Linked DNA regions of Homo sapiens. The protein of the gene in region 2 purifies or fractionates together with the protein of the main gene of each other region. This does not show direct contact. Each region holds a gene or a part of one and is shown on either strand. Other genes may lie near its edges.

Region 1 (2,278 bases), on a different chromosome or scaffold from region 2:
GACCTAGGTTGGAACTCTCCGGAAGACTCCTGCCAGAGTAGACACGGCTGCTGGGATGACAGCCCTGCTGCCCTGGTGGGCCCCCCTCCTGTAGGGACAGCGTTTCTGCCTCTTAGCTCTAGTCTGCAAGAGAGAACAGCTGCGCCTCAGAAATGGGGGCAGAGAGCTGGGTGGAGGGAGAGGAGAGGCCAAAAACAAACTCTGTTTGGGAAATCAGAGTCCGACAGCCAAGAAAGAGCTAGCGCGGAGGCTTTCCTTTCTGGCTCTGTAACGATGAAGCAAGCGCTTACTCACCCCAACCCACTTGCTTCTCAGGACGGTTTCCATGCAGCCGCCGCGGTGAACTCCCGTCTGGTGGACACTCCCCCAGGGCCTCGGTGTGATGGAGTTTCCTGAATCAGCGCAGGCAGACGTGGGACACCCTTGTGCACCTTTTCATTTTACTTCTGTTTTTAAATAAAGGCCCTAAATGCTGCTTAAAATAATGACTCAAGCAGAGGTTAAGTCAGAGTTGCCCTTTATTTTTAGATTCTTAAATATTCTAGAATGAGGTAAAACGAGCCTGCCAGTACAAAGTGAAAATTCTACATGGTGCATCTTTGGCGCTTCATGCATGATTATTTCAATGAACCTCTTCCTGGTCACTCTTAAGATAGATCTGAGTTTTTGACTCGCCAGTCAAGGGCTTTGGCGACACTCAATGACATAATATTCTTGGAAAAAGCAGTAGCATTTCTGACTTTTCATATTCAGCTCGGAGGTGTATTGTCTCGGGCTCCTGTGCAGTCGAGCGCCACGGCTGCTCATTGGATGATCCAGGATGGGTCCTTGGCAATTTTCGGGTTCTCGGGTCCGAGGATGGCCAGGCCGTGTGTGCTCTTCCCAGTGCCGAGGTATCTGAGAGGAAGGCAGGCGTGGTCAGCAAGGACTGGCTTCTGCGTGAGCGCTGTTAGAGTCAGCACGAGGGCTTCCAGTCCCAGACGCTGTCTCCCCCGCTCCCCACTCACCTATCGCTCACGGCCAGGAGCTTGTCGTGGCTGACAGCAAAGAGCTGCTCTCTGTGGGCCTGCTTCATCTCATCCGAGAGGCCGTACAAGAAGTGGTCCATTCCTAGAAGACAATCCACAGGCACGATGGAGCCGCTGCCCGGGAGCTCGCGTTGTGGGCTGTGCACTCATGTCCCGGAGGGGACACAGGCATCTCACTGTCATTTCACGTGCATGTTTCAACCACAGGGATGTGTCTAACAACCCAGAGATCACACCCCGACCTCCAGCTCCCACGTGCCACGCTGACCCCTACCCACGCCTGCTTCTGCAGCAGGGATGCAGTCAGCGCCGCGTGAGGCTGATGATGCTGTGAGCAAAAGCGGCTCCAGAGAGTAACGTGGCCATGCCCGGGCCGTGCCCACGTCCTCCTTCCACCCTAAAGAGCCCGGACACTGCCATGGGTTGGCCCCACTGGGTCTCAGGTCAGTAAAACAAATGACAGGATGCACTCTTCTCGCCCGGATGTCAGGAAGCGTGTTTAGGGTGTCAGACGTGGAAATCGTATCACAAGCAAGGATGGAGGCACCAGAAGCTAGTGCTCCTGCCCATGCATGCCGGGAACTTGGAAAACAGCAACGTCATCTGTGAGGCTGTGGGTTGAGATTCTCACTGTTATACTCAAAATACCTTTGTCTGAAGGAGCGACAGGAGCATCTACGGTTGAGAAGACAGAAAGTTTGGCTTCGTCGATGTCTTGCTGTGTGAATTTTCCAGACTTAGCCCAGTCGACAGCCTTCCCAAAAGACTGGAGCGTCTCTATTGTATTTGGGTCCCTAGGAAACCCAGAGAAATAAACGGGCAAGCATTTTACCAGTGGACAAGTTTATGACAAACCTCTGTCGACTTAACAGTTCAACATCTTCTATGGGTTAACAGCTCTATTTTATATCTGATTTAGTCCAAACAGCCCACTGACAAATCGCTCAATTACTCTCAATGGAAATTTAAATCTGATCACATAAGCCTTTCAACATGTTCTCCCTCTTAGACAAGGTCTGTCTGCACAAAGTCCTCCCTAGATTATTTAAATACACTTCTCTGTGACCTCATCAGGAGAGGAAAGTCAGTGGAGGGTAGGGGCAGGTCAGGATTACAGGGAAATTACAAAGACTTACATGGAAAAATTAAGCAAACAAAGGTTTTCCTTTCATCTCCCTGAAGACACACCCAGGGTAGTACAGGAATCAGCCTGAGGGGGCCAATCCAGACTTCCCTTCGTGTAAATGCAA
Region 2 (3,500 bases):
CGGAGGAGTTGGGATTACAGGCACCCACCACCACACCTGGCTAATTTTTTTGTATTTTTAGTAGAAACAGGGTTTTGCCATGTTGACCAGACTGGTCTCAAACTCCTGACCTCAGGTGATCCGCCCACCTCGGCCTCCCAAAGTGCTGGAATTACAGGCATGAGCCACTGCGCCCGGCCTTTTCTTTTTATTTAAAAAAAAAATTATTTTTTGAGACAAAGTCTTGTTCTGTCACCCAGGCTGGAATGCAGTGGCCCAATCTCGGCTCACTGCAAACTTTGCCTCCCAGGTTCAAGCAATTCTCCTGCCTCAGCCTCCCACATAGCTGGGATTACAGCCGCACGCCACCACATTGAGCTATTTTGTATTTTTAGTACAGACGCAGTTTCACCATGTTGGCCAGGCTGGTCTTGAACTGATGACCTCAAGTGACCCAAAACTCCTGACCTCAACCTCCCAAAGTGTTGAGATTACAGGTGTGAGCCACCGCACCCAGCCAAAAAAATATTTTTAGAGACAGGGTCTCACTCTGTCTCCCAAGCTGGATGGAGTGCAGTAGCACCATCACAGCTCACTGTAGCCTCAAACTTCTTTCTGGGCTCCAAGCGATCCTCCACCCTCAGCCTCCAGAGTAGTTAGGACTACAGGCACACACCAGGGGCTCTTTTTAAATGGCTGTGAGAAGAACTGGGGATAGAGACAGCAGCTAGGTGAAGTGAGAATTGGGGATCCTGACCCTTGGAAGTAGGTTTGGAGCAGATCGAGGCCATGGGCAGGGCCTTGGAGAGGAAAGATGAGGCTCAAAGTGCAGTGTAGGGAGAAGGTCAAAGTATTAGGGGACTATATTTGCTCCCATGACAGATTTTCCCAGCTTCATCCCATACCCGATATTCCATTTCCTGTCGCTGCTTCAGCTCCTGACTAAGGCAGTGGTCTTGTCTCCCTGAGGTCCAATCCTCATGTCCCTGCTAAGGAATCTCTTGGCAGAGACTCCGGCTGGAGAGCAAGAGGAAGTGATGGTGGAGACACTGGGACATTGAGAGGGAACAGGGCTGCCGCCAAGCCCAAACTGTGGCTGAGACAAGAATGCCTTTCAAGCAGGCAGTGAGCACCTCCTGCTTTGTGGTGCCAGCTGGTACCCCTTTGAGAGGGCTGTAAGAGCCCAAAGTCGTCATGCCCTTCCAAGGCAAGGAATGGGGTAACTAAGATACTGGCCCACAGCCACACTGCTTCATGCCTCAGTGTCCCCTAACATGTAGTCCTTCTAGCACTGTGAATGAAGGAAGACATGGATGTAGTATATGGGAGTCTTTTAGAAATGCAAGGGTATCTTCTAGCCAGGCGCGGTGGCTCACGCCTGTAATCCCAGCACTTTGGGAAGCTAAGGTGGGTGGATCACTAGATCAGGAGTTCAAAACCAGCCTGGCCAAGATGGTGAAACCCCATCTCTACTAAAAATATAAAAAAATTATCTGGGTGTGGTGGCAGGCGCCTGTAATCCCAGCTATTCGGGAGGCTGAGGCAGAGAATTGCTTGAACCTGGGAGGTGGAGGTTGCAGTGAGCCAAGAAGGTGCCACTGCACTCCAGCCTAGGCTACAGAGCAAGACTCCATCTCAAAAAAAAAAAAAAAAAAGAAAGGCAAAGGTATCTTCTTAATGCCCACCATGCTGCTGCTACCAGGCCAAACCACTCTCAAGATCTTTACCTCTCAGGAACTCATGGTTCCTGATGGTGCCTCTCCCTGGGTGAGGCATCCAAGGAGGAAATGCCCTATAGCATCCCTGGCTGGCATAGACGGTCATTCATTGCTGGGAATCCCACCAAAAAAGATGCCCTCAAAATCTACCCCTATACAGTTATATGGGTATGAAAGGGCTAGAAGAACAGTTTTGAGGATTGGGTTCTTCATAAACTCATATGGGCCTGATCCTTTCCCAGTAAGGCTGAGAAAAGAACTCAAGAATCCAGAGTTCTCACACCTGTCTGGTAGCTCTTAGCATGTAGTATGTGTACGATGCCAATCCGAGAGGTGGGCCTGGGGCCCTGGGGTTGCCATGAGGCATGTGTGCAGTCCCCACTTCTGCGCTACACCCCAAGTGCAAACCTGCTGCTCTTCCTGCACAGTTGCCTCTCTCTAAGGTCCCGTTGACTCCCAAACTGAGCCACCAAAAGTTTTCTCCAGTCTAACCACAGTGAACACTCACGGTTCCCCCAGTCAGGGTTTCCCGGGAACCCCTGATCTTCCAAGCAGCGGGTGAGCTATGGCAGGGTAGCTGATGGGGAGGAGTCAAATCCTAGCAGAAAGAAGAGGTAGAAACATGGAGTTCAAAGCAGAGAGGCAGATACCCAGAGATATGGGGCACAAAGGACCTGCATAGGGTAAGGGATTGACAAAAAAGACCCATAGCAATGGGGGAAGGAGGACCTGAGAGGAAAAATTGGCATTGAATAGCAGAAATAGCTATAATTCCAGCACTTTGGGAGGCCAAGTGGGGGAGGGTTGCTTGAGGCCAGCAGTTTGAGACCAGCCTGGGCAACATAGTGAAACCCCATTTCTATAACAGATTTTAAAATTAGCTGGGCTTGGTGGTGCATGCCTGTAGTCCTAGCTCCTCAGGAGGCTGAGATGGGAAGCTCACTTGAGCTAAGTAGTTAGAGGCTGCAGTGAGCTATGATTGTGCCACTGCACTGCAGCCTGGGCAACACAGCAAGACCCTGTCTCAAAAACAACAGCAACAACAAAAAAGAAGCAGAAATAGGCAGGGACCTAAAAGACCAGAAAGGTAAAAAGACACAAACTAAGAAGGAGAGATGATGGAAAAGAGACTGGGCTAGAAAAGCAAAGGAAAGCAGAGAAGAAAAGAAAGGAGTGGAAAAAAGAAAAGGGGGAGGAGGAGGAAGAAGGCGGCCTTCCTACCTAAGAGAAAACCACCATGGTGCTGGGCCCCAGAAAACCCCCAGACCAGGCCACTCCTCCCTTCTTCTCCCCCCTGACCGCCCCCTCTCCCTCTGCCCAGCCCGGCTCCGATGGTTTCCCTGCGGTCGGTTTATTTTTAAAAACGCCGACGCCGTCCCCCGCCCGGCCCTCACACTGCGGCCACAGGGGCCTCAGCCAAGCCCAGGGACCCCACCCAGCTGTGGGGAGGGAAGGAGGGGTGAAAGAAGGCAGCCAGCCCCAGGCCAACAGGAGACCCCAGCCCTGGGGAGTGGAGGCCCAGAGGGCCCTCGAGGGCAGGGAATGGGGAGCGAGGAACCAGACCCACTCAGAATGCTCTGGGGGCTACAGGCTGAGCACGTGGCTAAGTTTCACCACAGCCTCAGTTTCCTTCTCTTGCTGATTGTTCTCTCCTGAGAACTTGGGGAAAGAGCACTGGTTAAGAGTTCTAAACATGTGTCCCCATACCTGATCAAATGTGTTCCCTTTCCAGGGCCCAGCAGTCCCACCTTCGAGTTGTTCCCTCCCGACCTCCACCCCACCACCCTTAAAACAAAACAAAAC

The links. Proteins that work in one complex are often made in the same cells at the same time.
Region 1: the proteins of SP7 (region 2) and PITRM1 purify together in Homo sapiens (affinity purification with mass spectrometry; one large-scale study listed by BioGRID and IntAct). This does not show direct contact.

What each region holds. Positions count from the first base shown.
Region 1 is NC_000010.11:3,137,228-3,139,505, forward strand, and holds the end of PITRM1 (presequence protease, mitochondrial isoform 2 precursor), read right to left. Parts: intron 1,823-2,278; coding exon 1,677-1,822; intron 1,111-1,676; coding exon 1,008-1,110; intron 898-1,007; coding exon 804-897; 3' UTR 501-803; downstream 1-500. UniProt on the Homo sapiens protein: Metalloendopeptidase of the mitochondrial matrix that functions in peptide cleavage and degradation rather than in protein processing. Has an ATP-independent activity. Specifically cleaves peptides in the range of 5 to 65 residues.
Region 2 is NC_000012.12:53,329,855-53,333,354, forward strand, and holds part of SP7 (transcription factor Sp7), read right to left. Parts: intron 1-3,500. UniProt on the Homo sapiens protein: Transcriptional activator essential for osteoblast differentiation. Binds to SP1 and EKLF consensus sequences and to other G/C-rich sequences.